Regions from separate parts of the Homo sapiens genome. Here region 1 is linked to region 2. Evidence: fine-mapped expression QTL. A gene starts in region 2. The other region holds a variant in brackets. All regions are shown on one strand. Distances are from middle to middle.

Region 1 (10,098 bases), 65 kb before region 2:
TCCATTCTTCAAATATTTATTGAGCACCCCTGTGTGCCAGGCACTGAGGATACAGAGGTGAAAGAGAGAGCCAAGTTCTTCGTTCTCAAGGGGATTGTATTCTAGTAGTGGGGAGACTGAAAATAAGCAAGTAAAAAGTAGGGCTCATGTAATGATGGGCACTGTGAGAATGAAAATGCTGAGAGATGATGTTGGCCTGGGCTACAGCAGGATTTCTCAGCCTTAGCATTATGGATGTCTTGGGCTGGCCCATTCTTTGTCATGAGGGGCTGTCTTGTGTGTTTTGGGATGTTTAGCAGCCCTGGTCCCTACTCATAGATGCCAGTAGCACCTTCCCAACCAGCGTGACAGCCAAACATATCTTCAAATTTGGCATTCAGCCAAATGCCCCCTGGGAGGCAAAATCATTCCTGGTTGAAAGCCACTGGCCTAGTTTAGTAGCAATGGAGATTAAGGCAGGAGGATTTAGATTTGTTTTAGAGGTAGAAGATATGGGTCTTACTGGTAGCTTGGATTTGGGAGCATGAGGACTGAGGGTTTTAAAGAAGATACCAGGTTGTTGGCCCAACCACCTGTGTGGATGGTAGCACTGTTTGCTGAGCTGGAGAAGACCGGGGGCAGGGCCTGTGAGGAGTCTGTTGTGTTGTGGCTGTGACAAGGGAAAGGGGCCTGCTGGGCATGCTGGCAGAGGTGACACTCTGGGAGCATCAGCTGAGGGATGGAGTGTAAAGCCATGGGCTTTCAGCCTAGGGCAGGTTTCCCAAAGATGAGCAGAGGGAGGAGAGAAGGGGCAAGACCATACCTGGGGTACCCCAGCGCCTGAGGGTTTGAGCAGCATCTTGAGTGAGAGGAGTTTGGGGTTGTGGTTTGTGTCCAGCTTTTTTTTTTTTTTTCGAGACGGAGTCTCACTCTGTCGCCCAGGCTGTAGTGCAGTAGCGCAATCTCGGCTCAACTGCAGGCTCCGCCTCCCAGGTTCACGCCATTCTCCTGCCTCAGCCTCCCGAGTAGCTGGGATTACAGGCGCCTGCCACCATGCCCGGCTAATTTTTTTTTTGTATTTTTAGTTGAGACGGGGTTTCACTGTGTTAGCCAGGATGGTCTCGATCTCCTGTGTGTCCAGCTTTTTAAATGAGCTCACATTGAAGCTCATTTTCCCAAGTGAGAGAATCCAAATACAGGTTTTTTAGTCAACTTGAAAATATACACTTTAAGGATAAAGATAAACTAGTCTAAAGTGTATGTTTGATATTCAGTCTATTTAGCAACTTAGATTATAGAAAATAACGCTTGTTTTTAAAATACTGCTGTTTTTCTACTGACAACTTAGGAAGTGTCTGTTTGTGCTCCTCACACACATCTGATAGCACTGGCACTGCTGCTGGTCTGTCTGCCATTGCTCTGCCAGGCCCAGTGTCTCCATCTCTGTCTAAATGGCTAGATATGCAGCCCTTGTTGAATCAGTGTGTGATGCTATGAGCATTCTAGTCTACGCTACATGAGTCCTTTACACAGAACTCGAGGACACTTGCTTTTCTTCTTTTATCCCATAGGAGTATATTTGTGATCTCCACAGTGTTAACTGTTTCCTCTGTTTCTATTTTAACCTATTTTTGAATTGTGAGAGTTCCACATTCTTGGGTGTGTTTGATATAACATGGACAGTTGAAAGACTAGTTATGAGTGGGGCACCTATGTCATCACCAACAGATCAAGAAAGTCTTGCTTCTAAAGGCTTCTTTATAACCACATCCTCCTACCCTTGAAAATGTGAGGTCTAAGCTCTAGGCATAATCACTAAATTGATACAATTCTTGGCCTCCTTTAGAATTCCTTCAGTTCACCCTCTAAGTATCCTTCAGTAGCTCTGATGGAGTTCCCCCAACTCCCACTGCTGGCTAATATACCTTCCCCAAACAGTTCTTTATTCAAAACTAAATAATTCAGAGAGTGCCCTATAAGATGAGAGGTATTGTAAGGGCTCGTATACAAGGTGACTGTGCTTTTCTGAGGAACACACCTTAATGTATATTCAGTGACACATGGCATTTCAGATCCAGCCTTTCTAAGTCAAGAGATGTGTTATTAGATGTAAACTATACCCGTGATGTGGCCTGTGTGTCTAAGGCCTTGTAGCCATCAGGAAACAAATTTAGAAAGTCCTCTGTGTCCCCTTTTGCTTCCTCAGGGTTCCATTTTTGTATAGTTCAGAGCATCCTACCACAGTCATTGACTGCATTTCCACTTTTAACATAATAGAATAATAGAGGTAAGTGGGGGGAAGCTTTGCCAAAGGTGGCGAGCCTGCAAGATGGTTTAAGGCAAGGGTCAGCAGACTACTGTTGGGGGGCCAAATCCAGCCCACTACTTGTTTTTGTCAATAAATTTTTACTAGAACAGACCCAAATCTGTTTTGTTTTTGTTTTTGTTTTTGTTTTTGGAGACAGAGTTTCGCTCTTGTCGCCCAGGCTAGAGTGCAGTGGTGCGATCTCGGCTCACTGCAACCTCTGCCTCCCAGGTTCAAGCGATTCTCCTGCCTCAGCCTCCTGAGCAGCTGGGATTACAGGTGCTGGCCACCACGCCCGGCTGATTTTGTATTTTTTAGTAGAGACAGTGTTTCTCATCATGTTGGCCAGGCTGGTCTCAAACTCCTGACCTCAGATGATCCACCCGCCTCAGCCTCCCAGAGTGCTGGGATTACAGGCGTGAGCCACAGCACCGGGCTGCCAAATCTGTTTCTTTACACATTGTCTGTGGCCGCTTTTGTGCTGTAGTGGTAGCACTGAGTAGTTGTAACAGTGTTAGACTAAATTTGGCCTGAGGATGCCTCCATATTTTGAGTCCTTAAGTAAGGAACTGCAGCCTAACTTAGTATGTAAACTGACTAGAAGTCTAACTTAGGACTATTCAGTATTTTTGTAACAAATAGCTGCCAATCACAGCAGCCTAGCTTCAATCAATCACAGGTGGCCATCTGATTAGACCACATTCAAATAAGGCAAAGCCGAGGTGTAACCAGTCAAGCTGTCTCTGTACCTCACTTCAGTTTTGCCCCTAAATGTTGCCTGCCCAGAATGTGGACTGGAGCTGTCTGAACCTCGTCTGGTTCTGAGGGCTGCCTGATGGATGAATTGTTTTTTGCTCAGACTTGGCTAGATTTAATTTAACAGCAGAGACCTTCTGGCCCACAGTGCCTAAAAATATTTACTCTTTGGCTGTTTCCTGAAACAAATTGCTGATCCCTGATTTAAAGCATAAATGCTAAGTCAGACCTGAGTTCTATTCCTGGCTCTGACATACAGGCTGTGTGATTTGGGGCCAATTATTTAACCTTTCTGTGCTTCAGTTTCCTCCTGTATAAGATGGGGATAACACTGGGCTTCAGAAAATGGAAAGCAAACAATACATACGGAGTGCTTAGAATGGTGCCTGGCACATAGTCAGCACCCACTGACTACTGGCTCTTATCATTGTTACTCTCGTGGTGATAATGCTTTTCTCCATAATCCCACCTTCTTTTCACGCACATTAAATGTTCATGGATAGGTTTAAGTGTTTTGTTTCCCCACTGGATAGGAGAAATAACAGACCAGGTGGAGTCTCCACCTGAAGCTTGGGTTTCTCTGTGTTTTTTCCAGGTCTCACTTACCTTGATGACCTGCTTCCCAAACTGTGGGCATTTATCTGTGAGCTCGGGCCCCACGGAGGGTTAAAGCTCTTCTTGGAATGCCTGAACAATGACACTGAAGAGTCCAAGCAACTCTTGGCCATGCTGATGCTGTTCTGTGACTGTTCGCGGCACCTCATCACGTAGGTTGACTGCTGTGGGACTGAATTCCTTTCCTAGAATATGGAGAGACCAAAATACAGTGTCAGTAAGGAAGTAATTGCTAATGTGATTACTGCAAACATTTGGACCTGTGTGGCAGGGCATTGTAAGAACTAGCCATTTACCAAGTGAGCAGTGTGCAGTAAATGTTCAGCAGTTGTTAGGGTGGGGCCTGGGAGTTAAAAGTTCCCATCCTTTCAAGGAAGCTGATCAGTACCACTGGCTGTGGCTTGGGGTCTCCTGGAGATGGGTTTAGATCATGGCTCAGCCATTTATTCACTGTGCTAGCTAGATTCCTGGAAAATTCCAAAGTCAGAGCCAGGGTGCAGATCCTTGCTAAGCAGATCTTGAGACACCCTGGGCAAGGGATCACGGATTCAACCTCTCTGAGACTCAGTTGACTCATCTGTAAATGGGAATGACAATAGCACATACCTTTTAGGCACATGGTAGGGATTAAAAGACATAATTATTGCAAAGTGCTTATCACAGTCCCTGGCACATAGGATGAGTTCAGTACTTGTTGGCTCTTATTATTATCAAGCCGACCCTGAGCAAGTTTCTTAACCTCTTTGAGTCTCTATTTCCTCATTAGAATGAAGAGAATATTACCAGTTCAATAGAGGGTAAGTGAAAAAAACAGCGTCAAATACTTAGTGCAGTGCCTGGCACAGAGTGGGAAATTAACAAACATTAGTCCCATTTAGTTCCTTTGGTTTTTAAGCTTATGCATCTTGTGTGTTTGGTATTCTTTTCATTCCACCTTTTCCCAAAAGGTTGGTGAAGAATTATAAGATACAATGGACCTCAGGCAGTTATGTTCAGGCTGGAAGACTTTAGCCGGAGAGGATCAGGGACATGTAGGTGGCAGATTGGGTGAGGATCATGGAAGAACTCACTGAGCAGTTGGAGGCAAGAGCAGGGGTCTAGCTGCTGGTGAAGACATCCTTAATCACTGGATGGGGGTAAGCCAAGAGTGAATCTTATTCTAGTGTATGGAGCAGTGTTAGGAAATGTTCAGATAGAGCTGTGTCTTAAATGGCTCATTTATTCATATGTTCTTTCAAACATTTATTCATTTACTCACAAATGCTTACTAAGTACCTGCTAAGTGTCACTAGTATGTGTCTTAGATATCGAAAAGATTCTGCAGCTTTCCTCAGTAAACATCGACTCTCAGTCAATGTTCCTTGATATGCAGACATGAATAAGGAAGGCGTGAATTGAGGTGTGAATTAAGAAAGTGTCACAGTCAGATCCTTATGAATAAGAAAAATATAGAGTACAGATTTTTTCTTAATTGTATTTTTTAACTTTTTACTATGGTCGATTTCAAATTAATAGAAAGTAGAAAGGATAATATAATGAACCCTCATGTGCCCATTATCAGCTTCAACAGTACCACCTCACAGCCAGTTTTGCTTCATCCAAATGCCCACCTGCTTTTCTCTCCCACATTATTTTGAAGCAAATCCTAGACATCATATCATTTTTTTCATTTTATTTTTATTTTATTTTACTTTAAGTTCTAGGATACATGTGCTGAAAGTGCAGGTTTGTTACATAGGTATACATGTGCTGTGGTGGTTTGCTGCACCTGTCACCCCGTCATCTAGGTTTTAAGCTCTACATGCATTAGGTATTTGTCCTAAGGCTCTCCCTCCCCTTTCCCCCTACCCCTGATGATATCATATCATTTTATCTGTAGATTTTACAGTAAGTATCTCTACAAGATAAAGCTTATTTCTCAACCTCGTTTATTGTCTAGTAAGCAGTACAGATTTTTTTTCTCTTCGCCTTTTTTCAGTGTGGAATTGTGGGTAATTTTCTCTCTGATTTAGAATCCTTGATGACATTGAAGTTTATGAAGAACAGATTTCATTCAAACTGGAAGAGCTGGTCACTATCTCCTCTTTCCTGAATTCTTTTGTGTTTAAGATGATCTGGGATGGAATTGTAGGTAAGAGAAAAGGTGTCTGCTGTTGTTTGGTTGATGCTGCACCCAGGGAGGCCGAAGAGTCTATGGCATCAACTGATTCTTAGCTTTATTGTCTCTCCAAGTTAATAGAAGGTGCACATTTATTCCCACAATTGGAAATTTTCTTTCTTCACTCTCTGTGACTTCTTAAGATAGTGGTGTGGTTATAGAAGTCTTGCTCTCCCAGGCTCCCTTCAGGATTTGCATGTATGTGTCGAGGATTATTAATGATGATTAATTTTGCCCTGAATCTCCTGTTGATTCTTCCATTTGATTTCCGTGAAGATAAAACATGTGCCAGTGCACACTTGAGATGAGAGTCCACCTCCCGAAGTGTCTCCAATTGCTCAGGACAAAGCTCCTTAGACTTAAAAGGCCCTTCGGATGACACACTAGTGGGAGGCAGCATGAGTGATTTTGTCTGAGAGGTACTCAGGCCCTGCAGACACTTAGCACTTACCCAGGGTGCCTTTTAATTCTGTCGGTTCCACATATAATTCAGAGCGAGGGAGATCAAGGACTTGATGACAACTGCGGAAGACAAGAGCTGTCCTCCCCTTGCTCTCTGGCTCTGACTCCTCCTCTGACTTTCCTGTTTGTTTGTCCCACAGAGAACGCCAAGGGTGAGACCTTGGAGCTGTTCCAGTCTGTCCACGGGTGGCTTATGGTGCTGTA[C/T]GAGCGGGACTGCCGGCGGCGCTTCACCCCCGAGGACCACTGGCTGCGAAAGTGAGCTCCAGGGGTGAGGAGGGCTCCATGGAAGCCAGCCTGCTCCGGCACGCTGCCCGAGCACTCAGCTCTCATGTTCTAGGGCAGAGAGGACTTTTTCCCTCTGCTTCATTTTGTCTGTTCATTTGTGTAAAGAGAGCTGCTGTCCCTGTGAAGCACCTGTCAGGACGCTTCTGTTAAGAGATGTTTACACCAAATATGATTAGAGTTAATTAATGGCAACAGAGCCAGATTATATTTAGCATACATTTCTCATCCAAACTAGGAAGAGGTCTTTTAGCTGAGCTGAGCAACAGAGCATGAGAGTTAAAAGGCAGTTTTTATTAGCAGAATTACTAGAGTAAAAACTGCTTTTAGGTTTTTTGGAGAGTAATGGGGTGGGGGAAATCCTCCTATCACAACTGAACATAGGCATGTATCTGCATTTTTATCAATGAGTTCAAGCTTTATGGCAACTGCTGAAGCTGTGGCACTAGAGCAGGGACTGGCAAACTTCTGTAAAGGGCCAGATGACTTTAGGCTTTGTGGACCAGACAGTCTCTGTTGTAGCTACTCAACTCTGCTCTTGTAGCACAAAAGCTGCCATAGGCTATACATGTATGAATGAGTATGGTCATGTTCCCATCAGACTCTTGAGAAACAGACAGCACCCTGCATGTGGCCCACATGGTGTCATTTCCCAGCCTCACACTAGAGGATGGTTTCCTTCTTTTAATTCTCCCAAACCCATGTCTTTCTTCTCAAGGGATCTCAAACCTAGCGTGCTCTTCCAAGAACTCGACAGGGACAGAAAACGGGCACAGTTGATCCTGCAGTACATCCCACATGTCATCCCTCACAAAAACGTGAGTTGCACTCAGAGCTGGGCCCCGATGTGTCTTTCTATTCCCCCACGTGGTTCCTGCCTTTCCATCCTTGCTATGGCAATTGGAGGTGACTAAGTGGGATCATTCATTCAGCACAAGGAAACGGTGGTTGCTATTACTTTGGTGAGGTTACACCCAGTGCTGGGGTACAGAGCTGGAGAAGACAGTGTGAACTGGCGATGCTGGTGGAGTGGCAGCCCAGGTACGGAGACCTGACCAGCTGGAGGGAGGGAAAGGGGACAGGAAAGGGTCCCACGGGCAAAAGTGGACAGTGTTGAAAGGCTGAGTTAGAAAGGATGAGGTGCTTTTGGAGAGTCAAATGTGCAGTGTGGCTGGAGAGAATAGAAAGGATGGGGTCAAGAGGAAGCCGAGGAGGGTAGTAGGAACTAGAGCAAGACAGCCTTAGAAACCAAGGCTGGGAGCAAGGGCTTTCTGCAAAGCCACCGGAGGGCTGGAAGCTTAGGAGGCACCTGGTCAGAGCCATACTTCAGGAAGGTCATCTTGGCTGCAGCGTGGAGGGCTGGCTAGAGGCAGGGGTGTTAAAGCAAGCTGTCCTGCACTAGGGTGGGCCCTGGGAGTCAAAAGATGAGCAAGTCAAGAGATTTTTAAGGAGGCCTCAGAGAATGGTCACATCCCAAGGGGAAAGAAAGGAAGAATTCAGGTGATGCTCGGGTGTCTGGCTTGGGTACTTGGGGGGTGTTTTCCTGAGGTGGAAGAGCAGGACTGGGACATGGCGGCGAGTTCAGCATCGAGCAGGTAGGATGTGAGATGTCTCTGGCTCCTGGAAGCCATTGGAAAGGGGGTCTGGCATTCAGGAGGGAGGAGCTTGTGTGGGGAGAGCACCCAAATCTCCTGACTGCCCCCATGGACTGGGTGAGGTAGTCAGGGAATCAGACAGCACCCAAGTCTGCTGACTCCCCCCATAACCTGGGCGAGGTGGTTGGGGAGTCAGACGGAGTGAGAAGTCCAGGGCACTGAGGCAGAGCCCTGCAGGACCCGTCCCACAGAGGGCCAACACGAGGAGGGAAGGAGGGAAACCAGGAGAGTGCCACACACCCGGGGGATGAGAGAGACTTGGGGAGGATTGGGCTGTGGCAGGAGCATCCAGGAAATGAGGGTAGCAAGCATGGCTCACGTCCCTGGTGAGTGGCAGGCACTCTGGAAATGTCCGATGCTGCGACAACACTCAGCTCCTCTTAGAAGAGTCTTCTAGGAGTCTAGGTTGTGTCCTTTATTTTTCTCCTGTTCTATTTTCTTTTTCTTTTTTTAACGAAGTAGACATATTTTTAGAAAAGAGCATAAATCATATTTTTGTAAATTAAATCTCATTTTTCAGAGGTATTTCATCCTCACTGCTGTCTGATACTGTTCTGTCCTTGACTTTAATACTTATGGTTGCTATTCTTTCCCCCTCAAGCAGTGATGTGCAAACAATGTGGCTGTTTAAATTCTTACTGCACTTGGCAAACTCTCAGAAGTGAAGGGCCTTACGGCAATTACTTAATCAAATGTGCCTTCCTTGAGGGAGCCCCTGCTATGATGTCCCTGACCTTGCTTCCAATAGAAAATGCACAGCTTTGCAAAACAGGCTGTTCTGTGGCTTTACTTTTCCAAAAGATAGAACATTCTTCCTCATCATGAACTGTGCTTCTCTGTAACTTCTACCCTTTGGTCCTTGAACAACCCCTAAAAGTGGCTTCTTTTATCTTCTGTGATCTGTTGGCAGCTCCCGTTTGCATGTGGGGCTTGTGTTTTCCAAGTGTAGTATCCTTAGCCTCTCCACCTCGTCTTTGTTTGAAATAGGCTCCAGCCTTCATCTCCTGGGCCTCATCTGGTTTGGTGGTGTCTGGTTTAAAATGCAGCCCCTCCTCCTGGACCCGCGTGTCTGTGAAATCAGCCTCTGACCATTGCATTCCCATAACACATCGTCTAGACCCTCCGCTCTGTTTCTCTGTGGTTCACGTGTGCTGTGGCCACTGGAGGTGCTGCACAATATTTTAAATTTCTGAGGAGAACACAGTGAGACACCACATGAACTGCTAGTTCAGAGTAGTTCGTGGTTTCAACATGAGATTGCACTACATTCTTTTTAATGATGTTTGCAAAGCTGGCTTGTAAGAACAAAATAAAAATATTTTATATTTCAAAGTATGTGCATTTGTAAAATACAGCAACTGAGGTCTTAGGACATAAATATTTGGGACCTAACTACCTAGTAAAAAGGACTGCTAGGGATTTCTTTTGGCCTAGGAGTACCATGAAAAAAGTTACTGCAGTGATAGAGGTGCTGTGAATAAGAAAGTCAGGGAACCGCTGAGATAAATTGGAATGACTTTTAAGTCCAGGGTATATAGTAATCCCCACATTTTTTTTTTCTTTTGGGAATTTTGCTTAAATATGTCATCAAGGTTGTTTGTCCTTAGTTCATAAAATGTCCTCCCTCAGGAAAATGGGGCCCTCGTCATCTCCTGCCCCTTCCTGCTCCGTGATTGCAGGTCCTGGGGGAGTATCTAAGGCTTGGTGTTTTCAGAGCAGATGGGCTGTCTTGTTGCCCCTCCGCCCATCTCAAGCTTCAAGCTCCCCTTAGTGGCATGTGTGCTGCCCTCTGCCATTGAAATATTCTTGCTGGAGTACACAGGAGGGTAATAGGCTCTCTCTGCTCTGTTACCATTATACCATCTGCCCTAAATGTTGAACCTCTC
Region 2 (9,681 bases):
TTTGTATTTTTAGTAGAGACGGGTTTTCGCCCATGTTGGCCGAGCTAGTCTTGAACTCCTGGTCTCAAGTGATTCACCCGCCTCAGCCTCCCAAAGTGCTGAGATTACAGGCATGAGCCACCGTACCACCCCTTAAAGAACTTTCAACTTGAAATATAGCATATACACAGAAAAGTGCTCAAATCGTAAGTGTGCAAGTTGGTGAATTACTACTAACTGAATATACCTCCTTGATCAGCACCTAGCTTCATAAACAGAACATGAGCAACACCCTGAAAGCCCCCATGTAACCCCTTTTAGTTGCCACTCCCCAAGGGTTAGCCACTATGCTCACTTCTTTCCTGATGTGCTTTTCAACTTAAAAACCACATACTAACCATCCTGATAAAGAAATACAACACGTTCTATATTTTATATCATATATACATTACCATTATATTTCACATGAAGTCAAAGTCCTCTGTGCCTCTGCCTAGCTCACAGTCCCGCCTTTCTCCCCCAACCTCTGAGAAAGTGAAAACTGCCCCTGACAGTTTGGAGCTGGCTTTCGCTATCGGGCAGGCTTTGGGGTTGCCAGGTGCCGGCCTGGCACTCACAGGTAGACTGTGGTGTTCTGCTGAACACAAACCATTTCACAGAAAACCATCAGACAGGCCACTCTATGACTATGACGGTTCGAGACCAAGACAAGGCCACTGCGGAAGAACGTCTGAGCACAGACGACTGTGTCCAAACTCCAAAAGATGACCAAACCTCCCCCTTCCCTGGCTAATGTGAGTGACTGCTGCATCTTTATCCATTACAGCGTTAGCACCTCTTTGTCCCTTCTGTCTTCTAGAAACAAATTATTAACATACCCAATTACAGGCCAGGTGCAGTGGCTCACACTGTAATCCCAGGACTTTGGGAGGCCATGGTGGGCAGATCACTTGAGGCCAGGAGTTCGAGACTAGCCTGGCCAACATGGCAAATCCCCGTCTCTACTAAAAACAGAAAAAATTAGTTGGGCATGGTGATGCATGCCTGTAGTCCCAGCTATTCGCGAGGCTGAGGCATAAGAATTGCTTGAACCCAGGAGGTTGCAGTGAGCTGAGATCGTGCCACTGCACTCCAGCCTGGGCAACAGAACTAGACCCTGTCTCAAAAAACAAAAAAAGATACCCAGTGACAGAAACAGCCCTGCTTCCTAACAGGATTCAATCCAGAACAAAGCCCCACTTCCTTGTAACCACCCAACACAAGCCCAACCCTACAATAAGTCCTTTCCAACATCCTCTTCCTTCTTTTTAATTGTGGTAACAGATGATACATAACAGAAATTTTACCATTTTGACCCTTCTTAAGTTTACCATTCAGTGGCACTGAGTATGTCCCGTACATGCTTTTATACTTTTACTATACAAGTATATATCCAAAAAACAATACATACTAGTGGTCTGCATGCTTTTGTACTACAAAAAATGGTATACTGTCTTGGTGCGGTAGCTCATGCCTCCTGTAATCCCAGCATTTTGGGAGGCTGAGCTGGGAGGATACCTTGAGCCTAGCAGTTCAAGACCAGCCTGGGCAACACAGCAAGACCTCATCTCTACAAAAAAAATTAAAAAGTATTAGCCAGGCATGGCGATGTGTGCCTGTTGTCCCAGATACTCAGAAGGCTGAGGTGGGAGGATTGCTTGAGTCTGAAAGGTGGAGGCTGTTGTGAGCCATGACTGAGCCACTGCACTCCAGCCTGGGTGACAGAGTAAAACCCTGTATCAAAAAAAAAAAAAAAAAAGGATCATAGCAACGCATTCTTCTGCATCTTACTTTTTTCTATATAACATGTTCTAGCATTTTAAAAACTATTAAAGTAATATATACTCATTATAAAAAATAATAAAATAGAATAAAAGTATGTAAATAGTGAAAGTCCTTCTGTTTGTTCCCCTCTCACAACTTAATCTCTCTCCCAGAACAGTCCCAGGTGTAACCTTTCAGACTATTCTACACACACCTGAACACACATATATGTACATGCTTATCCAGACAGATTCAGGCTTTTGTCATTTAATATCTCTTGGGTGTTTTTCATTTCACATTACATTTTTGTAACATATTTTGAGATCTGTCAAATATCATACTTTTTTTTTCTGAGACTTTTTTTTTTTCTGAGATGGAGTCTTGCTCTGTCACCCAGGCTGGAGTGCAGTGGCATGATCTTGGCTCACTGCAACCTCTGCCTCCCGAGTTCAAGCAATTCTCCTGCCTCAGCCTCCCAAGTAGCTGCTGGGGTTACAGGCATGGACCACCATACTCAGCTAATTTTTGTATTTTTAGTAGAGATGGGGTTTCACCACATTGGCCAGGCTAGTCTCAAATTCCTGGCCTCAGATGATTAGCCCAACAGGGCCTCCCAAAGTGCCGGGATTACAGGCATGAGCCACCGCGCCTGGTATATTATACTTTAAAGTGGCTGCAAAGAATTTGGAAGAACTTTAAAATGGTGTATGCCATGAGTATTTCTTTGCATTTTTCACCTGTCCCCACCCTACCTTTGTCTCCCGTTTTGGTGTAAATCTTGGGGATCCTGGGTGTCTTCGAGGAAGGCTGTGGCCTAATGAGAAATAAACATCAGTATCTGGTGAGTGGGGATGGCTTACACAGAGGGTCAGCTCCTTCAGAGGGTCCCAGCTTGCTGCTTGTAACCTCAGAGGCAGCACTTACCCCTTACTGCTTAGATGGTCATCTCTTGTTGATTTCTTTCCCCTAGATCCTTTCTAATAGCAAACATTTTGTGGGCAAGACCAGAGCTGGATGACAGAGTGTGTAGAGTAGCTGATGTAATGCCTTGCTCAACAAAGATGCTCAATAAATATTTGCTGAAGGACTTGATTGATCCTTTGCCATTGTCCCTGCACTGTGCCAAGTAGTTTACAGGCATTATCTTCTGGAATTATCCTGGAATCTTTCCACAACCCCAAAGGTAGCCAACACCTATTCTCTTCATTTTACTGAGGAGGAAACTATGGCTCAGATGAGACACCTTCCTAGACCATCCAAGAAGAGGCAGGAGTGGGATGCCCAAAACTGTCCTAGACCAGAGCACAAACTGTAACTTCTATCCTACCGAAATTATTTATTTATTTATTATTATTATTATTATTTTGAGATGGGGTCTCACTCTGTCACCCAGGCTGAAATGCAGTTGCACGATCTAGGCTCACTGCAACCTCTGCCTCCCAGGCTCAAACAATCCTCCCACCTCAGCCTCCCGAGCAGCTGGGAGCACGGGTGTATACCACCACACCCAGCTAATTTTTTTTTTTTTTTTTTTTTGGTAGAGACGGGTTTCACCATGTTGCTCAGGCTGGTTTTGAACTCCTGAGCTCAAGCAATACTCCTGCCTCAAACTCCCAAAGTGTTGTGATTACAGGCGTGAGCCACCGTATCTGGCCTATGATTATTTTGTTCACAGACAGGGTCTTGCTCTGTTGCCTAAGCTGGAATGCAGTGCAGTGGCATGATCATAGCTCACTGCAGCCTTGAACTCCTGAGCTCAAGTGATCCTCTGCCTCAGCCTCCCAAGTAGCTAGGACTCTTAACTCTATCCTACCCAAATTTTTATCTTATACTCCACCAACTCAGGGCCTCTTGCAGGAAAAGAAACCTGAGCCACTTCCATAGTATGAGGCTTCGAGTGTACTCAGAGATGAAGAATTGCCAAAATACAGCTCAAAAAGTGGCATTTTCAAAAAACAATGTAAACAACTCAAGGACATAGCTCAAAATTAAAATGTGACATTACAAGCCCATTCGAAGGTTAATTTCCTGGATCTGTGAACTAAATTAATCCATTATTAATCCACGGTACTCTAGAGGTTCTGAGGTCTGGGTTGAGGTGCAAGTTTCAAGGAATATGAGGAAAGCCATCTTTAGAAGGTGCTGGTGTATCTGGGACCTGGGGAATAAACTGCTTTGGAGATTGGTCACAATCTGAGTCGAGAGCCCTCCTGGCCCACATGGGATATGCCCTGCCCTGCCCGATGATAGCGGGACTTCATTGGGACTTAGGCAAAGACTACCTGGTCTCTGGCGCCCACGTGGCCCACGTTGCCATGGTGACGTCAGAACAGCGTGGAGACGTCACCTGACGGTTGCCGCGGTGACCTCACGGCGGTGTGACGTACCCATGGCGACGACACCACGATTCACGGCAGGTGTTCGAGTTGCCCTTCCCGCCAGCCACTCACCTGTCCCCGTCTTCCACGCCCTGAGGGCCGCGGCTCTGGAAACGGGGATACAGGAGCCTGGCGGCGCCGAAGCACCCGCGCAGGCCAAGACGGCTCCCCAGGCCAAGACGGCTCCCCAGGCCGCACACAGCCATGAGCCAGGCTGCTTGACGGGACCTGACCCCGCCAGGTTCCCGTCCAGTCCGCGGGGTGACTCCACCCACAGCTGGCCGCGCCACCGCTCAGGTTTCAATTTTTATTGGTTCGCAGTTCTCACCCCAGGGCGGGACACTCCCAGGGACTTGTTTCCCATTGGTTTAACGGAAGGAGCGGGGCGGGAAAACCCGTGTCGGCTTGGCTGCAACACCTATTGACCAATGTTCAAGCCTATTGGTAAAGGTACTCCGGGCTCGCGCGCTCTGATTGGCTGGCCTGAAGTACAACGCCTCCTCCCCTTGAGGCACGGGCGCTCTGGGTTGTGGGAGTTGGGGAGCTGCTCCGGCTTCGGCGCGGAGGGGCGGCGGCCGGGGAGGCGGCGGCGGCGGCAGGTGAGAGGCCGGGGTCGGGCGGCCGGGCGGCGCGAGGTCCTAGACCCAGGACGACGCTGAGCCAGGCGTCCAGCTTCTGTGGCTCAGTTTACCCAGCTCTGAGAGTCTTGCCCCGAGGGATCGGCGACCTCAATCTGACAGTCGTGATTTTGAGCTTGACAAGCAAGGGGATTCCCCGCTCTGAGCCTCAGTTTTTCTAAGAAATGGGGATCACGATAGTACTTAGCTCATAGTACACCTGAATCTTAGCGTAAGGTAATCTACGTAAAGCCTTAAGCGGAGGATAATTTTGCGTTATGTATAAAAGTGTAAATTGCACACACCTATAGACCCTGCAAGCTCCTTTCTAGGACTCTGTCCTGCAGAAATACTCATTTAAGTGTGCAAAACGAGGCGTACTGGGTGTTTTCTGCAGCCTTGTTTATAATTGTGACACATTGGAAACAGCCTAAATGTCCAGCAAAGAGTTCTTTCTGCTCCATGATTTCATGTAATTTCTACCTTTAATAGTAGTAGTTGTAAAAGCTGAAACGAAGAACAGAGCCAGTAATAAGTAGCTCTCAGTAATTGAATGATTAGTAGGTGCCAGACACCGCCAAGTGTTTCCCTTGCGTTAATTTAACCTTCCTAACATCCACCGAGGTAGGTACGGTTATTTTCTCTCCATATAACGTGTGGGGAAACCGAGGTTCTTAGCCATTTAAGTGAGTTAACTAAGATGACATCACTGGGGAGTGGAAGAGCTGGCATTTGAACCCAGATCTGTTGGATGTGTCCAGTTGACTCCTGCATTGCCTTTCTGGTACGTAGCAAGTGCTGGACGGTAACTACCTTTTTTGTTATTATGATGGGCTTGAACTAGGTGTTCTAAGATCTCTTCCTGCTGGTTCTGACATCTAGAGATCTTTGCTCTTCTCATTGGCTTTCCCTTTTAGGATTCCCAGGAGCCATGTTGTCAGAAGTCCTACTGGTGTCTGCTCCGGGGAAAGTCATCCTTCATGGAGAACATGCCGTGGTACATGGCAAGGTACAAAGCCGTTAGAGCCTTTAAGGATTGGGTACCCCTTCTCCCTGATGCTAATTTTGTAAGAAGGTAAAAGGACACCCTGAGGCACAGCTTGGGAGCAGATCAGAGAGATCAGGTTCTCCCCAGCCAGGCAAGGAAAAGATTTCTTATGCCCACTGAAGGGATTCTTGGGCCTCGCTCGGTATGATAGCAAAAAGATGATTATAATATAAAGCCCTGTGAGTGGAATGAGATCACCTAGGAGTGAGCTTTGATGCAGAAGGAAAGAGGTTTGAGAACTGAGCTCCGGGGCACTAAGACATTTAGAAGTTGGAAGGATGATCTAGCAAAGGAGTTGAAAACATCCATTATCTCATTTTACCCTTACAGCTACCCCCAAGGCATACCCTTTTATTATCCTATTTTACAAATGTGCAAACTGAGGCTTAGGAGAGAAGTGGTAACTTGATCCAAGTCCTATATACCTTGGTAGAGCTTGGTGTGAACCTAAGTCTGTCTGAAACCACCTCTGCTGCACTCTGCTTTTTTTTTTTTTTCCTGAGACAGTCTTGCTCTGTCACCGGAGTGCAATCTTGCGATCATGGCTCACTGCAGCCTCCAACCTCAGCCTCCCAAGTAGCTGGGACCACAGGTGTGTACCACCATGCCCCACTAATTTTTTTCTTTTATTTTTCTGTAGAGACGTGGTCTGACACTACGCTGGTCTCAAACTCCTGGGCTCAAGTGATCCTCTTGCCTTGGCCTCCCAAAGTGCTGGGATTACAGATATGAGCCACCACACCTGGCTTCTCACTGCTATTCTTTATGTTCTTATATTTCTCATTGAAAACATGGTGATTATGGGGAAGTGATTCCTTGGTATTGAGAACCTCTGAAATTTTGCAGGCAGAAGGCAAAGTGGATTTTAACTTTTAGCTGATCGATGGTGGCTGTTCCCAGGCTTAGTGGGAGAGCATGCCAAGGTTGATTAGCAGTGTCTGGCAAGGGCATGGCTAGGAGTGGCCTCTGTGCTTATGTTTGCTCTCTTCTTAGCACGTGGGTCCTGGCCCCTTTGCCACTCACCCTCAGGCTTATTGCTTTTGTCATTTATTCTATAGGTAGCACTGGCTGTATCCTTGAACTTGAGAACATTCCTCCGGCTTCAACCCCACAGCAATGGGAAAGTGGACCTCAGCTTACCCAACATTGGTATCAAGCGGGCCTGGGATGTGGCCAGGCTTCAGTCACTGGACACAAGCTTTCTGGGTGAGTGCAAGGAGGAGAAACCAGGTGTGCTAAGAGCCTACAGAGAGGGCAGCTGGCCAGGTATTCTGGGCTGTCCCCAAGGGAGCCAGGGGCCAGCTATTTCCCGGGTGTTTTCTACCCTGACCTCATAAAATTAGCTTCACTCATTTTATTTTTTTAAAATTTATAGGTGTAAAACAATGCATTGGATCTCTGTGGGCTGTTGTGGACAGATCATCAAGGCCTATTGTTGAGTGAAAAAAATGCAAAACAGCAAACATACGTATTTAAGTATAAATATGTGTATAAATGATAGAAAAGGTCTCGGGGGCATAGACATCAGATTGGCAGTGGTGATTAGTTCTCCTGGGAGAGACCTAGGGCCAGAGAGTAGACAAAGTGACACATGTTTTAAATAAGGAGAATATATTGGCATTTTGTATAATTAAAAATTGATAAAAGTAGGCCAGGCACAGTGGCTCATGCCTGTAATTCCAGCACTTTGGGAGGCCAAGGCGGGCGGATCATCTGAGGTCAGGAGTTCGAGACCAGCCTGGCCAACATGTCGAAACCATGTCTCTACTAAAAATACAAAAATTAGCTGGGTGTGGTGGCACACACCTGTAATCTCAGCTACTCAGGAGGCTGAGGTAGGAGAATCGCTTGAACCTGGGAGGCAGAGGTTGCAGTGAGCCAAGATTGCGCCATTGCACTCCAGCCTGGGGGACAGGGCAAGACTCCATCTCAAAAAAAAAAAAAAAAATTTAATAAAAGTACAAGTTACCTATGCTTATTATTGGAAAATATAGTCAATACTGGGACATTGTAATTTTAAAAATCACCTATTATTTCCCTTCTCCTTTCCCTGACCCCAGTAATGACTCTAAGCATTTAGGCATTAATCCTTCTGGGTGATTTTCTGTAGATTGATAGAAAGATTGATAGAGACAGGGAGATATCTTGGTTTTTTAACCAAAATTGGGTCAGGCCATATAAACCATTCAGAAGTACTGATTTTTTCTTTGTGTGTCACGTGTGTGTGCTGATTTTTGACAGCACTGTGAAGATTTCATCCACTCATAAGCAGGCCAGCTTTTTCCATCAGTGGAGTCCCCTGTACCTGCCCCAGAGCTGACGTGTGTTTTCTCTGTTGTCAGTTTACTGTCTGCTCCCTGGGCTGAATGAAGCCTTGCTCTTTGGAACAGTGTTTCTCAGCCAGGATGGGGTAAATGAGAATCTTTTTGGGTTTTTTCCTTACACTGCACCTGAACCCTTGACACCTGCTTCCCATTCCCCATGAGAAACCACAGTCACTCCCATATGCCGTATGGGGATGGAGGAAGAGTTGAAAATTCTCATTTCACTTGTTGAGATGGGGTCTCACTGTGTTGCCCAGGCTGGTCTGGAACTCCTGGGCTCAAGCAGTTTTCCACTTTCCCACCTTGGGCTCCCAAAGTGCTGGGGTTACAGGTGAGAGCCACTGTGCCCAGCCAAAATCCTCATTTTAGAGCAGCCCTTTTTAACTTCATCATATCTTGGAATCACCCAGGAGTTTTTTGTGATGGTGGTGGTGGTTTTTTTTAACCAATACAGATGGATGGGCTCCTGGCTCCGCCCCTCTCTTATTGGGAGTTGGTAGTGGTGGTAGGAGTTTTTGAAAGGGGTTCCTTGGGTGATTCTGGGGACACCTCAGTTAAAAGCCACTCCTTTGGAGCGTGCATCTGAAAACAACCAGCCAGAGCACATGGAACTTGCTTTCCAAGGTGCACAGGGCCACCCAGCCAGACCAGAAATGTCTCCTGAGAACCAGCTGCAACTTGTGTATGTCAGTAGCTTGGGGTGGAAGCAGCCAGGTATGGGGGAACATGTCTCAGACCACTCCAACTCCCTCAGTGAACCTGGGGCAGGTCACTTCATCCTCTGGGCCTCGGAGCAGAGACATGTTTCCTGACTGAGGGCTGCCATGAGGATCCGACGACACTGGAGGCAGGCATTAGGGGTGCGACACAGAGTGCATTATGTAGGGAAGGGCTTGTTAGTTTTGGAGCTCTGGGAGACATACTATCTTCTAGGTTGCAAAGATCTACCATCTTTCTTTCAGTGTCCTTTTGCTCCCTCCTGATAGTAATAAACATTGAACTTTTTTTTTTTTTTTAAGAGGCAGGGTCTTACTATGTTGCCCAGGCTGGTCCCAAATTCCTGGGCTCAAGTGTTCTTCTGCCTTAGCCTCCCGAGTAGCTGGGAATATAAGCACATACCACTGCACCGTGCTACTACAGTGAACACTTATTGGGCACTTACGTGTGCCAGGCACTAAGTGTGTTCACATATGTTAGCACTCTTAGAATTCGCCAGCATTCCCTGGAAGTAGGTGGTGGTATTCATCCCCATTGTACAGATCTGAAAATTAAAGTTCAGAGGTCAAGTGGCTCAGGTTACACTTGTTGGTGACACTGAAAGGATTCAGACCCAGGTTTCTCCTAGCCCCAAAGTCCAGGCTCTTAACAGCTGTTCCATCTCGATTACAAAGCTCTGAAATACCTGGGTTCTCAATGATGCCATGACTTGGCCATTTGAGTATATCATTAATCCATTCAACACACATTTACCCAGTACTTAACCAGTGCCCGAAGTTTCCTAACACACGCATGCCCAATTCCATTTCCCAGTC

What was found. PIP is the estimated chance that this variant, and not a neighbour inherited with it, causes the effect. A credible set is the group of variants that fine-mapping cannot tell apart.
Region 1: its variant is the best candidate, but not a certain one, in a credible set for the expression of MVK in whole blood (INTERVAL, PIP 0.78).

What each region holds. Positions count from the first base shown.
Region 1 is chr12:109,503,929-109,514,026 of GRCh38, forward strand. It overlaps UBE3B (ubiquitin protein ligase E3B), which reads left to right. Exons shown (of 28, transcript NM_130466.4): 15 at 3,636-3,807; 16 at 5,668-5,786; 17 at 6,416-6,530; 18 at 7,276-7,375. Among named protein-coding and RNA genes, the nearest start is that of UBE3B, 31 kb to the left of the region's middle. The variant C/T (reference allele first, on the strand shown) is at 6,480.
Region 2 is chr12:109,569,115-109,578,795 of GRCh38, forward strand. MVK (mevalonate kinase) reads left to right here and starts at 4,680. Exons shown (of 11, transcript NM_000431.4): 1 at 4,680-4,759; 2 at 5,695-5,786; 3 at 6,884-7,031. The coding sequence starts at 5,709. It overlaps MMAB (metabolism of cobalamin associated B), which reads right to left and starts at 4,390. Exons shown (of 9, transcript NM_052845.4): 1 at 4,233-4,390; 2 at 2,535-2,596. The coding sequence starts at 4,366. RefSeq lists enhancers at 3,780-4,281, 4,282-4,781 and silencers at 4,541-4,670, 4,691-4,920.